3 linked regions of the Homo sapiens genome follow. The protein of the gene in region 2 interacts with the protein of the main gene of each other region in a pairwise test. Each region holds a gene or a part of one and is shown on either strand. Other genes may lie near its edges.

The links. The genes of interacting proteins can lie anywhere in the genome.
Region 1: the proteins of PLOD3 (region 2) and ZNF620 interact in binary tests that used the Homo sapiens proteins (3 or more experiments, as listed by UniProt).
Region 3: the proteins of PLOD3 (region 2) and KCTD9 interact in binary tests that used the Homo sapiens proteins (3 or more experiments, as listed by UniProt).

The regions. Positions count from the first base shown.
Region 1 is NC_000003.12:40,509,030-40,516,051, forward strand, and holds part of ZNF620 (zinc finger protein 620), read left to right. Parts: intron 1-2,440; coding exon 2,441-2,567; intron 2,568-3,372; coding exon 3,373-3,486; intron 3,487-6,830; coding exon 6,831-7,022. UniProt on the Homo sapiens protein: May be involved in transcriptional regulation.
Region 2 is NC_000007.14:101,214,560-101,222,404, forward strand, and holds the start of PLOD3 (multifunctional procollagen lysine hydroxylase and glycosyltransferase LH3 precursor), read right to left. Parts: upstream 3,023-7,845; 5' UTR 2,716-3,022; coding exon 2,607-2,715; intron 2,228-2,606; coding exon 2,136-2,227; intron 1,988-2,135; coding exon 1,851-1,987; intron 1,768-1,850; coding exon 1,604-1,767; intron 1,462-1,603; coding exon 1,349-1,461; intron 594-1,348; coding exon 530-593; intron 1-529. Other genes in the region: ZNHIT1 (zinc finger HIT domain-containing protein 1), read left to right, coding at 3,860-3,926. UniProt on the Homo sapiens protein: Multifunctional enzyme that catalyzes a series of essential post-translational modifications on Lys residues in procollagen. Plays a redundant role in catalyzing the formation of hydroxylysine residues in -Xaa-Lys-Gly- sequences in collagens.
Region 3 is NC_000008.11:25,448,421-25,455,442, reverse strand, and holds part of KCTD9 (BTB/POZ domain-containing protein KCTD9), read left to right. Parts: intron 1-1,867; exon of another isoform or gene 1,868-1,899; intron 1,900-4,961; exon of another isoform or gene 4,962-5,063; intron 5,064-5,772; exon of another isoform or gene 5,773-5,920; intron 5,921-7,022. UniProt on the Homo sapiens protein: Substrate-specific adapter of a BCR (BTB-CUL3-RBX1) E3 ubiquitin-protein ligase complex, which mediates the ubiquitination of target proteins, leading to their degradation by the proteasome.

The DNA.
Region 1 (7,022 bases), on a different chromosome or scaffold from region 2:
TGTACTATCTTAAGCAGATAGTAGGTTCTTATTTGCTTAAAAGTCCAATATGACAATGTTTGCCTTTTGGGATGTTTAGATTATTTACATTTGATACCATTATTGATATGGCTGGATCTGGGCCTGTCATCTTTCTACTTGTTTTGTAATGGTCCCATCTGTTCTTTGTTTCCTTTTATTCTCTTTTTCTATTTTCTTTCTTTTCTTTTTTTTCTTTTGTTTGAGACAGAGTCACTGTGTCACCCAGGCTGGAGTGCAATGGTATGATCTCGGCTCATTGCAATTTCTGCTTTCTGGGTTCAAGCGATTCTTGTGTCCAGCCTCCCACGTAGCTGGGATTATAGGCACACACCACCATGCCTGGCACATTTTTTGTATTTTTAGTAGAGATGGAGTTTCATCATGTTGGCCAGGCTGGTCTCGAACTCTTGGCCTCGAGTGATCTGCCCACCTCAGCTTCTCAAAGGGCTGGGATTACATGCATGAGCCACCGTGCCTGGCTCTTTTTTTTCCTATTTTCCATAGGATTAATGGTGTGTAAATATCAGGCATCGTTCTTTTCAGTCTTTCCAAATGATCCTTTCTCTGGCCTTGGTTAGTTTTCCCACACCCATGTACTGATCTGTATTTTGTTGAATACTCTAAAGGGACCTTCTGCTGATAATTGAGATTCCATCTCTATGCAGCCCTCTCCTCTCTGGCATTCTGTCCTATAAACTCAAGCTGCCTTGGTCTCTTCAGACTCTACAAGGAAATATGCCAGGTTCTGCCTCAGTTCCCCCTTCCTGTGTTGCAGCCTGGAAATTCCTCAGGGTAGTAGCTTAGGGAATTATAGGGCTCACTTCTTTTCTTTCCTGTTTCTCAGGGATTGTTGTCGTTTTTTGCATGATATCTTGAAAATTGTTTTATATAATTTGTCTGGTTATTTTGTTTCAGGCAGGAGGGGAAATCCAGCCCCTGTGATTCCACCTAGATAAGAACTGGAAGTTTTCCCTTAGCATTTTTTTTTTTTTGAGACAGTCCCACTGTCACCCATGCCAGAGTACAGTAGCACGATCACGGCTCACTGTAGCCTCAACCTCCCCTAGGCTCAGGTGATCCTCCCACCTCAGTCTCCCGAGTAGCTGGGAGCACCACCTTGCATGGCTAATTTTTGCATATTTTGTAGAGACGGGGTTTCACCATGTTGCCCAGGCTGGTCTCGAACTTCTGAGCTGAAGCAATCTTCTCACCTTGGCCTCCCAAGGGGCTGGGATTACAGGTGTAATCTGTAATCCCTGCATTTTCAAAAACATTACCCTTTTACTTTTGGTGTTTAGTCTGTTGCCATCTCGACTTCCCAGTCTTCGTGTGTGTTGTTTTTCCTTCTCTGAAAGCCTGTAGGATCTGTTGTGTATTCTCATTTTTCTGAGATGTCTCAGTTACATGCCTATGTGTAGATATTTTTCATTCATTGTCCTAAATACTTTGTTGGTCCTTCCTTCTCTATGTTGCTTTTAAGGAGATAGAATATTTTACCAAGTTATAAACAACAGTGCACATTTACAAAATCCTTAGCTCATCCTTAGTTCTGTGGTGTGAATTGGGCCCCTTTTTGTTTGCTTCCCCTTCTGCCAGAAGTTGAGTTTCATCTTTGTCTGCTTTTCTAGTCTAGTTATCATTCATTCTCTTTCTGCCTTCTAAAATTCTGTTTATACCTCTAGTTGGCTTTGATTCTTCTCTCTCTCTCTTTTTTTTGAGACAGGGTCTCACTCTGTCACCCAGGCTGGCGTACAGTGGTGCAAACACAGCTCACTGCAGCCTCGACCTCCCCGAGCTCAGGTGATCCTCCCATCTCAACCTCCCAGGTAGCTGGGACTACAGGCATGCACCACCACACTTGGCGAATTTTTGTATTTTTTGTAGAGACGGGATTTCACCCTGTTGGCAACATCGCCAGGCTGGTCTCAAGCCATCCGCCTGCCTTGGCCTCCCAAAGTGCTAGGATTACAGGCGTGAGCCACTGTGCCCAGCCTGCTTTGACTCTTCTCTTGGGCTATTATGTTACTATCACTTTAATGGGGTTAGGGAGAGAGTGAAGATCAGTACAAAAGTGTTATTCACTGTGTTTATACAGATGTCCCCTGTGCATGTGCACACAAAACCCACACTGGGGAAAGGAGCCCAGAGGAACAGATGGGCACACAGAGCAGGGCACAGTGGAGGCAAGCAGAGATCAGCAGATGAAAATAGAGCTGTTTGCTGGGGATGACCACAAAGGGGTGCAATGACCCTTGGACTCCCCTGTTGGTGCGGGCAAAGATGGCTGAGGGCTGGCCTCATGGTGGAGTGCTGGATAACTGTCCTTGGCAATACCACTAGACCCAGTAGATCTCTGCCCCACTACTTAGCCTGATCCTCTGCCCTCACACAGGGTTTGAGCAGGAACTTGTTGTTTTAGGAACCAGTGACCTTTGAGGATGTGGCTGTGTACTTCACCCAGAATGAATGGGCCAGCCTGGACTCTGTGCAGAGGGCCCTGTACAGGGAAGTGATGCTGGAGAATTATGCAAATGTGGCTTCCCTGGGTAAGACATTTCTTCTTGTTTTTGGCCTCTGCCCTTTAAGCATCCTGGCTTCTTTATTCCTTAGAACTTTGTGGGGTTTTTTTCTTTTTTTCTTTTTTTTTTGAGACAAGAGTCTCCCTCTGTCGCCCAGGCTGGAGTGCAATGGCGCAATCTCGGCTCACTACAACCTCCACCTCCCAGGTTCAAGCGATTCTTCTGCCTCAGCCTCCAAAGTAGCTGGGATTACAGGTGGGCGCCACCACACCCGGCTAATTATTGTATTTTTAGTAGAGATGGGGTTTCTCCATGTTGGCCAGGCTGGTCTCGAACTCCTGGCCTCAAGCGATCCTCCTGCCTCAGCCTCCCAAAGTGCTGGGAAGACATGTGTGAGCCACCGCTCCTGGCAGGAGAACTTTGTGGGGTTTCTAATAACTCTCTGTTGCCCTGAAGGCTGAGCTGCCTGGAAGTTTCTGGGTGGAGAGAGCCCTGCGTTCCCAGGTTTTGAAATCACCTGTCCCTCCAACCCTGGGAGGGGCTGTACCCAAAACATGGGGGGGAAAGGAGCTCTTGGGAGCACAGCAAAGCCCCTTGTGTCTTCCAAGTTCTCTGAAGAAAACTTGAGATTCCCTTATGTGAGCGTGGGATTATTCTGGGACTCTGTGCCACTTTGTGGGAAATTTCTGTCCTCCAGCAGCATAGATTAAGTTTCTCCCTGACTCACCTTGTCTCTCACTACCTGGCTCAGCAGATAAAGATAAAGGGGGCTGCAAGAGGATCCTGGTTCCTGATTCCCCTTACCTTTTCCTGTTTCTTTCTCCCTGGGCAGCATTCCCATTCACCACGCCTGTTCTGGTCTCCCAGCTGGAGCAAGGGGAACTGCCATGGGGCCTCGATCCCTGGGAACCTATGGGCAGGGAGGCTCTCAGAGGTATCTGTCCAGGTGAGCATGAGAACCCACTAGCTGCCTTTTTGGCTTGGCTTGCTTTCTTGTTTTCACATTTCATTGTGCAAGAAGTGTTTCTTCTCTTGGGAGACTGTTTTTGTTCCTGTGGAATCATTACATGTGATTCTCTGAGTTCATGGTGGTAGCCTACCTCAACTGGGGAAGGGCCAGTCTCTTTTAAGACAGGAATGACTGTAAGATTTCTTTGCATATTCGTCTTTGCCTGTCCTCCTCACAACCTGCCAAGGGAGACTGTCTGATTGGGCAGCACTTAAACCAGCTCATTTCTTCTCTGTCACATGAAAACATTTTATTTTTCTGCCAGTTTGTTTTTGCAAAGATGAGGATGTCAGCCACCTTTGGAGGAAAATAGGCTTCTGGCAACATGGCTGGCCATCTGCATATCATAGGCTACATTGTTTAAGCACTGACTTAAAGAATAAAAAGTTTGTTTTTATAATGGAAATTTTCAAATATATGCAAACACCAGCATAATGCACTCCATGTATCCTTCATCCAGCTTCAACAGTCACAAATATCCTTTGATTCTTATTTCATCTTTCCCCCACAGATACTTAAAAAAATTTCTGAAGCAAAATTTATTGTAAATTAAAGGTGAATAACTTTCTCACTTCGATGGCTATTGATATAAGAATTAAAAATAGGCTGGGCATGGTGGCTCATACCTGTAATCTCAGCATTTTGGGAGGCTGAGGCAGGTGGATCACTTGAGGCCAGGAGTTCAAGACCAGCTTGGCCAACATGACGAAACCCCGTCTCAACTAAAAAAAAAAAAAAATATATATATATATATATATATATATATATATATATATGGCCAGGTGTGGTGGTTCATGCCTGTAATCCCAGCACTTTGGGAGACCGAGGTGGGTGGATCACCTGAGGTCAGGAGTTCGAGACCAGCCTGGCCAACATGGTGAAACTCCATCGCTACTAAAAATACAAAATATTAGCATGGACGTGGTAGCACGTGCCTGTAATCCTAGCTACTCAGGAGGCGGAGGCAGGAGAATCGGTTGAACCTGGGGAGTGGAGGTCGTAGTGAGCTGAGATCATACCATTGCACTCCAGCCTGTGGGCAGCAAGCCACCCAGGTGCCAAGGCAAGAGACTGAGGGCACAAGCTGTTCCAGTATAATAAAGAAAATATATAGAATAAGAATAATTATGCTAGAAATAGATTATAGATATGATTATATATTAATATTATTAATCATTAGTTTGTAGCATTACTCTTTATTCCAATATTATAATAATCTCTGTTCTACAATTATAACCTAGGAAAAACCAGGCCATACAGAGATAGGAGCTGAAGGGACACTGTGAGAAGTGACCAGAAGACAAGAGTGTGAGCACTCTGTCAAGCCGGGACAGGGCCACCAGAGGGCTCCTTGGTCTAGCGGTAATGCCAGTGCCTGGGAGGGCACCCCTTACTTAGCAGACCTTGGTCTAGCGGTAGCGCCAGTGCCTGGGAAGGCACCCGTTACTTAGCAGACCGGGAAAGGGAGTCTCCCTTTCCCCGGGGGAGTTAGAGAAGACTGCTCCACCACCTCTTGTGGAAGGCCTGACATCAGTCAGGCCCACCCGCAGCCATCCGGAGGCCTAACCATCTCCCTGTTGATGCTGTGCTTCAGTGGTCACGCTCCTGGTCCACTTTCATGTTCTGCCCTGTACACCTGGCTCTGCCTTCTAGAAGAAATAATGATGTAAGCTGTCCCCTCTCTCTCTCCGCCTCGGCTACCAAATAGGGAAGGGCCCCCTGTCTGGTGGACATGTGACTCGTGTGACCTTACCTATCATTGGAGATGACTCTCACTCCATACCCTGCCCCTTTGCCTTGTACATAATCAATAACAGCACGGCCAGGCATTCAGGGCCACTACCAGTCTCCGCATCTTGGTGGTAGTGGTTCCCTGGGCCCAGCTGTCTTTTCTTCTATCTCTTTGTCTTGTGTCTTTATTTCTACCATCTCTCGTCTCTGCACATGAGGAGAAAAACCCAGAGGCCCAGTAGGGCTGGACCCTACACCAGCCTGAGTGACAGAGCGAGACTCTGTCTCAAAAAAAACCCAAAAACATCAAAAATTAGCTGGGTATGGTGGTGTGCACCTGTAGTACCAGCTCCTGGGGAGGCTGAAGCATGAGAATCACTTGAACCCAGGAGGTGGAGGTTGCAGTGAGCCAAGATTGCACCACCACACTCCAGCCTGGGTGACACAGCGAGACTCTATCTCAAAAATAAATAAATACATAAAACATAGTATATTTTTTAATCTTTCTTATTCTGCTTCACCCATTCTCTGCCTGTGAAAATTTTCTGTGCTCTTCTGCAGAGAATGCCCATTACTGATCCACCCCCAAGTCTTGAGTTTAAGTTGTACCTTTCTGGATGTGACCTCAGGACCCTACGTCATCTGAGTAAAAATATTTTCTGAACAATTTTTTGTGAATGCATGCAGGCTGAAGATTTTACTTAGTCTGCAAAAGGTTTTGATAGTGGAGGGAATATTTCTCTTTGGTTTTCCCTTATTATCATGTGAGTTTAGTAGTTCACTTTTCAAACTGTTGTATTAAACAAATGCACAACCTATGAGACCTTTTAGGAAAAATGGCAAGCATCGTTACCAGGCCCTCTTTGGGACTTACATTCACTCTTGGAAGAGTTCTTCACATTTCCAGTGCTTTTTGGTTTTAAAGGCAAGCCTCCAAACCTTCCTTTCTCCTGGATGCTGTGGTGGTTGCCATGCATGGCATCCTCAACCACTGCATGGGAGCCTGCTGCTTTACTAGAGCCAGCTTGATGGTAGAGATCAGCTCTCTTTTCAAGGTTATGACATGCATGATGTCTTTTAACAAGCATCTCTTAAGGAATCTCAGCCTGTGGGACCTGTTGTAGTGCTTGAACTGCTCAGCCTGCCCCTTCTCTAATCTTGGGAGTCTTCCTCTCACTTATGGATTTCCATTTGTTACTTTTTTTATGTTTGCATCTTTATCCACCTCATTCATTTTTCTCTTAGTCTTTCTGCCCTAATTAACAGTCTTTGCAGTTTTCTGGTTTTCACACTGTTTATGGGAATGCCTCCTGGCCTTGCTTCCCTCCCGTCTCATAGAGTTTTCATGTCCCTTGCAGGGCTCTGTTGTGTGGTGATCTTAGGCAGCCATCTTGTGAGCATATTAGAAAATATCCATATATTCAGGGCAAATTAGAACCACTTGATTCTGTTTCTTCTTCAGCACAGATATTGTGTGTGTGTGTGTGTGTGTGTGTGTGTGTGTGTGTGTGATATCAGGGACTGACATTTGTATTTTCTTTTTGTGATAGGGGATGAGGCCAGAACTGAGAAGGAAGGATTAACTCCAAAGGATCATGTGTCCAAAGAAACAGAGTCCTTCAGACTGATGGTGGGGGGCCTGCCAGGGAATGTTTCCCAGCACCTTGACTTTGGGAGCAGCCTAGAGCAGCCACAAGGTCATTGGATAATTAAGACAAAGTCAAAGAGGAGACATTTCACAG
Region 2 (7,845 bases):
GGGCACAGTGGCTCATGCCTGTAATCCCAGCACTTTGGGAGGTTGAGGCAGGCGGATCACCTGAGGTTGGGAGTTCGAGACTAGCCTGGCCACCATGGTGAAACCCTGTCTCTACTAAAAATACAAAATGAGCTGGGCGTGGTGGCGCATGCCTGTAATCCCAGCTACTCGGGAGGCTGAGGCAGAAGAATCACTTGAACCCGGGAGGTGGAGGCTGCAGTGAGCCAAGATTGGACCACTGCACTCCGGCCCGGGCAACAGAGCGAAACTCTGTCTCAAAAAAAAAAGTCCCTGGCCCGGTGCCCAGGCACAGCATGTGTGCAACAGATGCCAGACACGTTTTTGCTTCCCTTGCTTCTGGTAGTACCATCAGCACAGTGCAACTTACACAACCAGCCACTCAGACGCCTGACAAAACCACATAGAGGTGGGCTTGGATCAGCCCAGCTCCTCCAGAAGCCTCTCCCAGCTCAAGACCCCTAGCTGCAGAGGCTGCGCATCGCCCACCTGCGGCTGTCTTCCTCCTCACCTAAAGCCCCGTTGAGGTTCTGAAAGATCCGAGACTTATGATCCAGATTAAGGCTGAGTTTCTCCTAAATGGAATGAGATGCGATGGAGTGGTTAAAATGGAAGGAGTGGAAAGGACATCATTTCTCACTTTTCTCTCTCTTTTTTTCTTCTCTTGCTTTTGTTGCTTAGGCTGGAGTGCAATGGCACGATCTCAGCTCACTGCAACCTCTGCCTCCCGGTTTAATTGATTCTCTTGCTTCAGCCTTCCAAGTAACTGGGACTACAGGAGAGTGTCACCACGCCTGGCTAATTTTTGTATTTTTAGTAGAGACGGGGTTTCACCATGTTGGCCAGGCTGGTCTCAAACTCCCAATCTCAGGTGATCCACCCGCCTCAGCCTCCCAAAGTGCTGGGATTATAGGCATGAGCCACCATGGTTTTCCTTTTTTTGTGAGAGACAGAGTCTCATTCTGTCACCCAGGCTGGAATGCAGTGGTGCAAAACATCCTCAAACTCCTGGGCTCAAGTGATGGTCCCACCTCAGCCTCCCAAGTAGCTGGGATTACAGGCGTACACCATGAAGCCTGGCTAATTTTTTCTTTCTTTTTTTTTGTAGAGATGAGGTCTCAACTATGTTGTCCAGGCTGGTCTTAAATTCCTGGACTCAAGCAATCCTCCTGCCTAAGCCTCCCAAAAGTCTTGGATGACAGGCGTGAGCCACCACGCCCAGGCACACATTTTTCTCTTTGCAACCCCCTTTGCTCCCCAAATCCCATTCAGCCTGAGGCCTCCACTCCCACAGAGCTGCGGGATGCGCCCACTCCTCTGCCTTCCCTACCCTCAGTCCTGGGTCCAGGTAGAGCCGTGTGTAGAACAGCTGGTCGTCGTCATCATCCTTGTACTTCCACTGGCGCACGATTTGGTGGATGGTGGTGGCAAAACCGATGAATCCTGGCGGGGAGGGGGAGTGTTGACCTCGAGACTCCCAGGGTCCCAGGGCCTGTCCCCCAGGCTGTCTCCAGCCCTCAGGCGCCTTTAACACTCTGTGTCCCACCGCTCTTGGCCCCTCTGCCTTGGGCACTCTGCCACTCACCACCAGAATTGAGGAAGCGCTTCCCCGTGCCCACCTCAGGGTACTGCTCCGCCAGCCCCCACTCGGGCCAGCAGAAGCTCTCTGCAGAGAAGAGCAGGCGGCTGCCACTCTGGACGAACTTCTTCAGCAGCTCTGTGGGGCTGCCGGCCAGAATCACGTCGTAGCTGGGTGAGGAAGGGGAGGATGGGCAGGGGTCCACTGGGAACCTCAGCATCCTTACCCCGCTCCCTATCCCCAGCCCCGTTACCTATCCACAAACATGATGATCATATCCTCCCGGTCAGCGTATTTCTCCATTTCCTTCTTTAACCACCGGACCTTCTGTCCTCCACCAACTGTTCGAGCCACATCACCCCCTCGCCACTCCTCTCCCAGGCCCAGGGTCTGTGGAGAAGATTGCCCCGTGCCAGGCAAGGGGTGGGGAGTTGTGGGGGGAACTCCTGACCAGGCTTACCGTGGGGACCTGGGCATCCAGACTTCAGCCCACCCCTCCTGCTGGGACCCCCTCCCAGGGGCCTTTCCCTCTCCTCACCCGCACAGTGTAGTTGAAGAACTCCGCAGAGCGCAGGAAACGCAGGTACCCCTCGGTTTCAGCTGTGGCCACAGTGATCACCAGCAGCTTCTCTGTTACCAGAGGGAAATGGCACTTGAGATCCACCGCCCAGCTCCGGGCCTCACGTGCTTTGCTGTCCTCCCTCTCACTCGACTTCCCTCCCTTTCTTCCTTCCCATTCTTAAACTCTTCTCACCCAGGAACACTCTGACCCCAAGGAGGGCAGGGTGGGAGTGGTGCCCAGGAATTCCGAGTCCCTTTGCATAGGGAGGCTGGAAACCCCAGTTCAGGGTAGTGATGGGCGAGGGGCTTGGCGCGACTCAGCCTCAAGAGCACGCTGGGCGGGGGACGGGCCAGACACCTCCTCGAGCCTCCGACCCTCTCCGGGCCAGGCTGGCAGGCACGCCAGCCTCTGCCCCCTCGGCCGTGCCGGGCCTCCCCGGGATCTCACCTGGGTTGACCGGGTCTCGGCCCCGGGGCCGGTCGGAGGCTGAGGCCGCAGGGGGCAGCAGCAGCGGCAGCAGCAGCAGGAACCGGGGTCCAGGCCCCGAGGAGGTCATGGTGGGGAGCGGGCCCAGACAGCACCCAGGATCCTGGGATCTCCGCTACGCGCCTGGATCCCAGCTCCGGAGGGGAGCTCTGGAAAGGGGGCGCTCGGGCTGCTGTGCGGCCGCCGCGGGGAGCAGCTTGGCTGGGGCTACGCCCTGAAAAAAAGGCGTATCCGGAGGCTACAGAAAGCTCCAGATGCCGGCGCCACAGACAAGGCGAGGATTGTCCCGGGCGCACGGGAGGCGGGGGAGGGGCGGCGGCTCGGGCCGGCGGGCGGGAGACAGGGACTCTGGGCTGAGCCAGCCGCTTGACACATGTGGAAGCTGAAACCTGGACAGGGGAAGTGACCCCTGGCGGAGGGTCGGGCGGGACGCGGGGGCGGGTCCTGGCCGCAGCCCTGCCCAGAGAGTGCGGGCGGAAGACGGGGAGAGCGAGAGGCTGGCGGCGACAGGGAGGGAGGAAGCCTAGGAGTCCGCCGCGGGACGGAGGCCTGGGGGAACTGGGAGTTCAGCTTTCTGCAGAGGGCCACTAGGAACCTCGGATTGCCCACGGAAGCCAGCCACTTTCTTTGACAGTCCAGCCCACCTCCTCTTCTGCCCGGAGAAGCTCCAGGGGCTGCCTTTGTGATCACAGCATCTTCACAAGGACCAAAGGAAAATAAGATTTCTTGTAAGAACACCGTGACCACATCTTTAAAATGACCCATTTCGTGGCTCCCACAAGATTTACACCTCCACACTGAGGCCGGAAGTGGTTTTGCCCCTATAAAACATGGCGAAAAGCTTTCTTGTCTCCAAGGAAACGCCACGTAATGAGTCAAAGCTGTGGCGCACGCGCAGAAGTACAAGCTACCGGAAGTGATGGCGCCCCTACTAAAGCCTTGGGGTTAGTACGCGTGCGCAGCAGTTTCTTCCGACAGTTGTGTTGTGCCAATGGTGGAGAAGAAAACTTCGGGTATGTGAGCCCCCGCGGTTCGCCCCCTTCCCCTTCCCAAGTCAGTCCTAGAATTTTCTTACCTAGTCATTCCTCTTTTTTGGTCTCGCTCTTTCGCCTAGGCTGGAGTGCAGTGGCATAGTCATAGCTCACTGCAGCCTCGATTTCCTGGGATCAAACCATCCTCCCACCTCAGCCTCCGGAGTGGCTGGAACTGCAAGCATGAGGCCCCACGCCTGGTTAATTTTTAATTTGTTATGTGGTGACGGGCTCTCGCTATGTTGCCCAGGTTGGTCTCCAACTCTTGGCCTCAAAGCGATCCTCCTGCGTGGGCCTTCCAAAGTGCTGGGATTACAGGCGTGAGCTGCCGCGCCCGGCCCCAGCTATTCCTCGTAAATCCCTTCCTCAGCCCTCGGGTCCTGGCGTTGACCCTTCATTCACGTTTTATTGGTGCCTGCTCCAAGCCGGGCGCTGGGGATGAAGAGGAGAAAGACCCCTCTTATCCAAGCATTGGCTTTTTCTGGAAGGGGGGCAGAAACGCAGACCTAACACTGTATTTTACTGTGATTTGTGATTTGTGCTATGGCAGAGGGAAGCACAGCGCCTGGGAACAGGGAGACGTGGCATCTAGCCCAGGTTCTGGGAGGCAGGGGACTGTGAAAGCTTGAAGGAAAAATGAAAAAGCTTGAATTGAGTCTTGAAAGTCTAGTTAGGGTTTCTCTCAGTGGGAACCTCACGTGCAAAGGCAGTGAAGCAAGAAAAAGCAAGTCGCTTAGGAAGCCAAGTTCACAGTTTGGATCTTACAGAGTAATAAGAAAGGATCGAAGGCTGGGGAAAGGTTACATTTTGAAAGGCATTATACACACTGCCCAGGAGTTTGAACTCTGTAGGGAAACACTGGAGAGCCAGCAAAGACTTTTTTTTTTTAGACAGAGTCTTGCTCTGTCACCCAGGCTGGAATGCAGTGGTTCTATATAACTCACTGCAGCCTCAACCTCCCATGCTCAAGTGATTCTTCCACCTCAGCCACCTGAGTAGGTGGAACTACAGGTGGGTGCAGGCCACCATGCTGGGCTAGTTTTTATATTTTTTGTTGAGATGGGTGTCTCACTATGTTGCCCAGGCTGGTCTTGAACTCCTGAGCTCATGTGATCCTCCTGCCTCGGCCTTCCAAAATGCTAGGATTACAAGTATGAGCCACTGCGCTTGGCCCTTTTAGTTTTTCTTTCTTTCTTTTTTTTTCTTTTTGAGACGGAGTCTTGCTCTGTCCCCCAGGCTGGAGTGCAGTGGCGCAATCTCGGTTCACTGCAAGCTCTGCCTCCCGGGTTCACACCATTCTCTGGCCTCAGCTTCTGGAGTAGCTGGGACTACAGGCGCCCGCCACCACACCCAGCTTATCTTTTGTATTTTTAGTAGAGACAGGGTTTCACCATGTTAGCCAGGATGGTCTTGATCTCCTGACCTCGTGATCCACCCGCCTCGGCCCCCCAAAATGCTAGAATTACAGGCATGAGCCACTGCGCTTGGCCCTCTCAGTTTTTCAAAGGCATCGCAGTCTCCCAGCCATCAGTTTTTTCATGTTGGCCTCAAGGTCTGAAATACCCCGCTGTCTCCCCTAGCCAGGTCATTCACCAGTTAGGCCTTAACCTAGACTTACCTTCTTCTGGGAAGTCTTCCCTGACTACTCCAAGGCCAGGTTGGGTGTTTCTGTCCTGGGCTCTGCAGCACTTTATACTTCCGTATCCTAGCCTACTCCATGCTGTACTTACTGTGTTTGTTTCATTAATCATTTGTGTTTGCCACTGGACTGTAAGCTTTGGCATCCCTAAAACCTAGAGCACTGCCTGGCATTTGGAGGGGAGACAGAGTAGTACAGTGATCATAATCATATTTTTTTTTGTTTGGTTGGTTTTGGGTTTTTTTTTTTTTTTTTTTTTTTTTGAAACAGGGTCTTGCTCTGTCACCCAGGCTGGAGTGCAGTGGCACAAACACAGCTCACTGCAGCCTTGAGCTCCTGGGCTCAAGCAATCCTTGCGCCTCAGCCTCCTGAATAGCTGGGACTACAGGTGTGTCCCACTACACCTGGCTAATTTTTGTATTTTTTTTGTAGAAACATGGTTTTGCCATGTTGCCCAGGCTGGCCTCGAACTCCCGCGCTCAAACAATCCACCCACCTTGGCCTCCCAAAGTGCTGAGATAACAGGCATGAGCCACTGCGCCTGGCAAGGTCATGCTTTTTGATGCTGGGTAGTTCTTTGACTCCTGACCTGGCCACTTGTTAGCTATGTGAACTTTGGACACATTTCTTAATCTCTGAATGTTGGTAAATTGGGGATGATGATACTGTCCCATACAGCTGTTGTAAGGGTTAAATGGTTCAAGTGTTGCAAAGAGCTGAGCACGTGCCTGGCTCATAGTAAGTGTCCAACAAGTGATAGCTACTGGGGCTGCTGCTGTTATTATTATGCTTAACAGGTGGTTAATGAATAAAGAGATATATTATGCAAAATTATCAGAATCTGGCAAACAGCTGATAAGGCAATGAGGAAAGAGGTTTTTTGTTTTTTGTTTTTGAGACAGGGTCTCTCTCTGTTGCCCAGGCTGGAATGCAATGGCGCGATCTCAGCTCGCTGCAACCTCCACCTCCCGGGTTCAAGCGATTCTTGTGCCTCAGCCTCCCGCGTAGCTGGGATTACAGGCATGTGCCACCACACCCTGCTAATTTTTGTATTTTTAGTAGAGACATGGTTTCACCACGTTGGTCAGGCTGGTCTCGAACTCCTGACCTGAAGTGATGAGCCCACCTCAGCCTCCCAAAGTGCTGGGATTGCAGGGGTGAGCCACTATGTCCAGCCGAGGAAAGAGGTTTAAAATAACTTCTAGGTTTCTGGTTTGGATGTCTGCATAGACGGTTCCATTTGCGTAGAGAGAATCTGCAGGAGAAGCAGACTTGGATGGGAATTTTTTTTTTTTTTTGAGTTGCAGTGTCCACAGGGCCAGTGGGTGATTTCTTTTTTCCTTCTTTCTTTTTTTTTTTTTTTGGAGACAGTCTTGCTTTGTCACTCAGGCTGGAGTGGTGGCGCGATCACGGCTTGCTGCACACTGCAGCCTCAACCTCCCGGGCCCATGTAGTCCTCCCACCGCAGCCTCCCAAGTAACTGGGACTACAGGCATGTGCAACCACGCCTGGCTTATTTTTTAATTTTTTGTAGAGATGGGGTTTGGCTATGCTGCCCAGGCTGGTTTCTAACTCCTGGCATCAAGCGATCCTTTGGCCTCCCAAAGTGCTGAGATTACAGGCGTGCGCCACCACACCCGGCCTCACCAGGCGCTGGCTGCATGGCCAGTTCTGGAGCCCGGGAGCAGGTTCTGTGTTGAGGGAGTCACTCTGGGAGTCATTTGCTTGTGGGTGATCATCAGAGCCCTTTGTTTGGAGTCAAAATCCCAGGAAGAGTGCATAGACTGAGCAGAGAAGAGGGCCAGCCACCTCCATAGAGGCAGGGAGAGCAGCCGAGCTGGAGCCGGAGGATTCCTGGACATGGAGAAGGCCTGCAGTTTTGTCAAGGAAGCAAGCAAAGGGTCTCTTTCTACTCGATGAAGGTAGTCGGCACCGCCACAGGGTGGACAGGGCTCAGGTCCAAGGAGGAGGAGGAAGGCACACTGGAGCCGCTCTGGGGCCCAGAGCGTGGGTGGGTGGTCCCCCAGGATGACCAGGCAGGTGTCAGATTTTGGGGTTCAAGGAGAGGATGGGAGGTGAAAAAGTGACACATCACGTGAGTTGCTGTGAAGGAGAAGGAGCTGTGAAGCCGAGTAGACACATGAGCGTCGCCAGCTCTTTGATGGAAAGTGCCGGTTGAGGAGGAGGGGTTGAAGATGGGAGAGGGAGGGAATGGGCTGGAGGTGAAGGCTCGGGGTCAGTGGTGGGACTTGGGGCGCTCCAGGGCAGGGGTGTGCCCACTTGGCATCACGTTTGTGGGTAGGTGGCCTGGAAGATGAGCGTATCCAAGCATGGGTGGCCCCTGGTTCCTTTGAGGTAGGAGGTGAGATGCTGAGTGTGAGGGCCATGTGTATTGAGGGCCCAGGACAGCCTGGAAGCCCCAGGGCGCTGTGACCTCCCCAGTCAGCAGTGAGCTGTCTCCAGGCCGGGGCTCACTGGCTGGGACTGGGATTGAGAGGAAGGCGGAGAAAACAGGCAGGAGAAACTGAAA
Region 3 (7,022 bases), on a different chromosome or scaffold from region 2:
ATTAATTGCTATTAATAATCAGCCTCTCCCTAAGTGTATGTTATTCTTTGAAATATTAGCCATTGATAGGATGAGTCATCCTAGTTAGCAAGATATTTAGAAATAAGTTCTAGTGCATGAAGACAAATGGCTTCAGATTTTTTTCTTTTCTGATTTTTTGGTTTTTGTTTGTTTTTTACTTTTATTTATTTATTTATTATTTATTATTATTATTTTTTGAGACGGAGTTTTGCTCTTCCACCCAGGCTGGAGTGAAGTGGCGTGATCTCAGCTCACTGCAACCTCTGCCCCCCAGGTTCAAGCGATTCTCCTAACTCAGCCTCTTGCTTAGCTGGGATTACAGGGGCTTGCCACCATGCCCTGCTAATTTTTGTATTTTTAGTAGAGACGGTTTTCACCATGTTGGCCAGGCTGATCCTGAACTCTTGACCTCATGTGATCCACCTGCCTTGGCTTCCCAAAGTGCTAGGATTACAGGCGTGAGCCACCATGCCCGGCTTATTTTAATGTTTAAAGTCAATCCTGTATTTGGCAGAATTTCACTAAATTTAATGATAAATATTTAGGAGATTCTTAGTGGCTAATTCATAGTCTGAGTCACTGAAAGTCCTCATCATTTGGGAAAACATGTACTTTCTAACAGTGGAATGTAGTTCATAAATACATAAATATACAGATGTTTGAGTACATGCCCAAAAGTATGTTACCAATGGGGTGTGTGGTCAGAAACATTTGAAGGCCTTAGTTCTAATCACTGGAATCTTTGGTTTAAATTTTGAGGGTTTTTTTTGTTTTTGTTTTTTAAAACTGCTCCGAAAGAGTCAGTTATGTTGTTTGTACCTGTCATCCTTTTTCCATGTGCCTCAACATTTTCGTTATTCTTTTTAATATTCCCTGTAAGAGTTGGCATTAAGGAAATTGAAATGGGGACTTGCACATCTGCATGCAGTGTGTGGCTTCTGAGCAACTTAATGTCAGTGCAGAGTTTCTATACGTCTTGAACACAGAGTGCTTTTTTTACTTCAGAATATTCAATAATGAGCTGTGCAAGTCCTAGGCCTTTTGTATACTGATTAATTCATCATTCATTCATTCATTCATTCAGTGAACACTTAGTAAATGCCTTCTGAGTATGTGGCATCATGCCAAACATGGCAAACAGGGTAGGAAATACTTTCATTCTGTACCGTGTTTTCATTCTTGGTCCAAGAAATAACTTTTCTTCAGGTTTTGGTATTAGGTCAGAAACATGTTGGGGGCAGGCACAATGGCTCATGCCTGTAATCCCAGCACTTTGAGAGGCTGAGATGGGAGGATTGCTTGAGTTCAGGAGTTCAAGACCAGCCTGGGCAACATAGTGAGATCCCATCTCTAAAACAACAACAACAACAAAGAATGAAAAAGAAATATGTTGTTAGTAGTAAGTATCCAGGTTTGAATCCATTACGTTGTTAGAGTTGGAGAAAGGTGAAAATTTATCTGAACCTCTGCCTCTGAAGGCTAAACATTAATAAGAACCTAGTGAGGGCCCACTTTTTAAGCTTGAACATTTCTTAATATATTTGATACATAGAAAAGAATACAATAAAGAATATACATAAAAAGAGGAACATAATATAGCAAACATCTGTAAATCTGCCAGATAACCCAAGAAGTAGCATGTTATCAATAACATAATGTGTTTATCCACGTTCCTGTACTCCTGTTTTGTTTTTCTCTTTGCCGTGTGTTTTTAAATAGTTTTGTCACATATATATGCATAACTAAATTACCTTTTTTTTTTTTTTTTGAGTCGGAGTCTCACTCTGTCGCCCAGGTTGGAGTGCAGTGGCATGATCTCTGGCTCAATACAACCTCCGCCTCCCGGGTTCAAGCAATTCTCCTGCCTCAGCCTCCCAAGTAGGTGGGATTACAGGCGCCCGCCACCATACCTGGCTATTTTTGTGTTTTTAGTAGAGACAGGGTTTCACCATATTGGCCAGGCTGGTCTCAAACTCCTGACTTCGTGATCCGCCAGCCTCAGCCTCCCAAAGTGCTGGAATTACAGGCTTGAGCCACCGTGCCCGGCCCTCACCTTTTTTTTTTTGAGACAGAGTCTCGCACTGTCACCCAGGCTAGAGTGCAGTGGCGCGATCTTGGCTCACTGCAACCTCTGCCTCCTGGGTTCAAGCGATTCTCCTGCCTCAGCCTCCTGAGTAGCTGGAATTACAGGCACGTGCCACCACTCCCAGCTAATTTTTGTATTTTTAGTAGAGATGGGGTTTCACCATGTTGGTCAGGCTGGTCTCGGCTGACCTCCTGATCTGCCCGCCTCAGCCGCCCAAAGTACTGGGATTACAGGCGTGAGCCACTCTGCCTAGCCACTAAGTTACATTTTTAAAAAATCAGCTTCGGGACATACGGTATCTCAAATTGATATTATACTGTATATAGTTTTTTGTGGAGACAATGTCTTCCTATATTGCCCAGACTGGTCTCAAACTCCTGGCCTCAAGCAGTCCTCCTTCCTCAGTCTCCCAAGGTGCTGCGACTACAGGCATGAGCCATCATGCCAGGCCAGTCCTTGCTTTTTTCGTTCAATATAATTCTCTTCCAACCATAATATCTGACATAGTGATAATTTATTCATTTTTACTGCTTTATTAAAGTACATGTTATACAAATACTACCATGATATTCCTGTCAGTGGACATTAGGTTGTTTATTTTCTTTATATTTTGTTGTTAAATTGACAGTGCTGTCATGAATATTTCTGTATATGTATCCTGGCACACAGCAGCAAGCATTTTTCTAGGGAGGTAGTTAATCAAACTTTAGCATGCATCAGAGTCACTTGGAGGAGGAGGAGGACTTGAGAAAACTGCTGGACTTCATCCCCAAAGATTAATATTCAGTAGGTCTGGGGTGGGGTAGGAATGTACATTTTTAATTTGCAGGTGAAATGTGGTTCAGATGCTGCAGGTGACAGGATCACACATTTGAGAACCACCACTCTAAGGTATAGACACATAGTTGTAATTATTGGGTGTTAGAATATGTAAATATTCAGTTTTGCAAAATAATGCCAGATTGTTTTTCAAAGTCATTGCAGTAATTTATATTCCCACCACCATTGCATAAATCTTCCCTATTGGTCCACATCCACTCCAACACTTGATATTACCAGTATTTTCCATTTTAAAATTTTCTTTTTTCACCTTAGAGTTAATTATCTCATCTTTTTTTTAAATTATCTCATCTTTTAAAGAATAAGATCATGTAAATATTTAAAATGTATTTGACTAAAAGTATAGGTAGAGAAAATTGAGTTCTGTATTTAGTTACTAGTGGTGATTAGTGGTTTTGTTGGGTAAATCAGCCTGCATAAATTCAACAATTTATGTGTATTGTATATTACATAATGCACAATAAATACTTGTGTATTTATCATAACAACTTTTTGCAAATTAATTTTTTTATTGGACCTTTAGGATCCAGGCAGACAGCCAGATTAGAAAATATTTAGTGATATGGTAAATTGTTTTTGATACTTTATTAGGATTGATTAAAGTGGCAATAAAAGTTGAATTCAAATACACAAATACTTGTGTATTTATTGTGTATTATGTAATAAATCTTGTGGGTATAAAAGAAAAAAATATTTTACATGCATGTGCAGGTTTTAATTTTTAAATTTAAATAATACAGGTTACAATTTGAAAATGGTGTTTAAAGGTAAATTAAAACTAGCCAATCGTACTAGGCATGGTGTTCCATTTACTCTCCAACTCATAGGCAGCTTTCACTTGTCATGGGATCTGAAATTTAAAAATAATTGACTCTGAAAAGTAGTATAATACAGACATCATGAACTTTAATAGACATGCTTCTCAATAAATGTAAAATGCTTCTATTCTTAGGGCCTAAGTTGTTAAGGTAGATAATCCCAGTGACATGGAAACATCAGGCCACATGGTGGAGATAACACATACAAAGTAAATGACCTTTGTAAGCACTATCATTTTATGATTTATTTGGCTCAGTATGAGGACAAAAACAATCTTAGTATATACTAACTGGAGCTTATGTCCATGATATACAAGATTTTTATTGCTCCTCTTTCTCAAAAGAGTTATATAAAGAAGAATGCATGTGCCAGTCTGTTTGCAACTTTCTCCGTAACTTAATCATCTTTTCCATATGTATGACAAATTTATGTTGATATATATATTTTAAAACCTGGTTTCTAATTAGTTTAAAATACAGAGTTTTTGCATATTTGAATATTAGTATTGCAACATAACTCCTTTTTATTTGTATGGTATTGTTAGTATGTGCGAATGATTAGTTGGAAAACAAACGTCAAGAATAGCCCTCCAAGTGAAAACAAGTATATTGGCCCAACTTAAGGGAAATTTTCAAATTTCTAGAACTATAAGATTCTTCGTATTAATTTTAATTCTGTTTTCTCTAATTGACCACCCTTTGGTTATTTCACTTAAAGGAAATTGTTAACTGCCTGATTGCAAACTGCTAAAATAATTTTATTTATAGAACTAGTATCTGGAGCTATGGAGACCTTAAAATAAATTAAAACTTCCCCCCTTATTACAAAAGTAATATAGGTTCATTGTAACAAATTTGGAAAACAAACAAAATAAAGCAAAAAACTTAGCAGGGTGTGGTGGCTCATGCCTGTAATCCCAGCACTTGGGAGGCTGAGGCGGTTGGATCACGAGGTCAAGAGATTGACACCCTCCTGGCCAACATGGTGAAACCCCGTCTCTACTAAAAATACAAAAATTAGCTGGGCGTGGTGGCACGGTTTTACCATGTTGGCCAGGCTGGTCTTGAACTCCTGACCTCAGGTGATCCACCCACCTTGGCCTCCCAAAAAGTGCCGGCATTACAGGCTTGAGCCACCATGCCCAGACTGCTTTAGAATTGCATTTATACTGTGTATTTTTTTACCCTAATGACAGTGTAAGAGACTTAAATGAATATGACTGTCACACAAAAAAGGTGTGTCCTACTTCAACACTCAACATTCAAGAAATATTTGTCAAAGACCTGCTGTAAGCCAGGTAATGTACCATTTGAACCTATGGCGGTTATTAGTAGAACAGCTCAGGAATGTACTTCTTTAGTGCTGCTTATCAGCTTTACCAAGGGATAATTGGTCACCTCTATTCACAGAATTCATAACAACTTTTTGCAAATTAATTTTTTTTATTGGACCTTTAGGATCCAGGCAGACAGCCAGATTAGAAAATATTTAGTGATACGGTAAATTGTTTTTGATACCTTATTAGGATTGATTTAAGTGGCAATAAAAGTTGAATTCAATTTATACCTAGACTGTGCTCCTTAGTAGTTTTACAGCCTACAAGGAAATACCTGTTGTACTTTGATTGCCTTGAAAATAGTCCTTGCCAAGCAGTATGTGTGGTTTTTTTCTATCATCTGGTCACATTTGACTTCAGTGGGGAAGAAACAGAAGATGGCAACATCCCAACCCTCTAAATAAAACAACAAACAGGTCTTGAGTTGTATTTCATCAGTTTGTTACTTTGGGTTCCTATGTCATGGGAAAGCCTAATAGAATTAAAATAGTTGTGTTTTTTTTTCTTCATTTTTTTTTTTCTGCTCTTTAAAATGGCACTGTCTAATAGAACTACTGAGATGATGGAAATTTGTGCTATTCAATATGGTAACAATTAGCCAGTGTGGCAGTTGAGCACTTGAAATGTGGCTAGTGTGACTGAACTGCATTTTAACTTTTAATTTTAATAGATTAAAATTTAAATAGACTCATGAAGCTAGTGGCTTCCACACTGGACAGCACAGCTTTAAAACATGGCAGGTGGCCTTTATTTTCATCGGAAGACAATAGACCCACAGAAAAACCAAGTCAATCATATGGAAGTAGACGACAATTCAAGTTAGTGTATTTTGAATAAGTCATATAAGATCTTAAGCTATAATATTACATTAAGTATTAAGCATAATACAGGCAGGTGCATTCAACTTGCATCTATTTTTTGGTATGGCCAAGAGAGAACAGTGAAAGAGATGCTGAGAGAGAAAGTTGATGTTAGGGCAAGGAGGGGATATCAGGCAAAAGAAAGCCATACTGAGATGTAAGAGCCAGAGGTAAATAAGAGGGAAAAGAAAGATTTAGAAAATTCTTTGTATGATGGCAACTATGCCAAGAACATTGAATTGGGAAAGAGGTGCTTGTGCTTCTTACCCTCTTTTCACAGCACCTTCTGACTGCAGGAGTTGTTTTGCATCTGCTTTGGTCAATCTCTTGCTCCTTTGCATGTTTGCTTCTCTCTTCTCTGTCTTTACTCTCTTCATGCTCTTTGCCTTAACACAACCCCAGCTTTGCCGTGTGCAATGCCCTAGGTACTGTATTTCGCTTCGCTTTGTCCCAGGAATGTGTATAATGCAATTACAGAATACCTCACTGTGTTGCAGAGGTGAACAATCATAGGAAATATGGGGGACATGTTTTAGTCAGGCTTTTTTTTCTTTTTTTTTTTCTTGGAGAAGGAGTCTCACTTTGTCGCCCAGGCTGGAGTGTGGTGGTGTGATCTCAGCTAACTGCAACCTCTGCCTCCCGGGTTGAAGCAATTCTCCTGCCTCAGCCTCCCAAGTAGCTGGGACTACAGGCACACGCCACCACGCCCGGCTAATTTTTTGTATTTTAGTAGAGATGGGGTTTCACTGTGTTGCCCAAGCTGGTCTCGAACTCCTGAGCTTAAGCAATCCATCCGCCTCAGCCTCCCATAGTGCAGATTTTACAGGCGTGAGCCACCGCGCCCAGCCCTACTCAGGCTTTAATTATTTATGGCAAGCCTGCTGTGTGTAGGACACTGTGCCAAGTGCTTTGCAGTATTTTTTTTATTGTGATAAAAGATGGAACAAAATTTATTATTTTAACCATTTTTTAAATGTGTAATTCATTGACATTGTTTACATTCACAATGTGTGTAACCATCACCACGGTTTATTTCCAGTACTTGGTCATCATCCCAAAC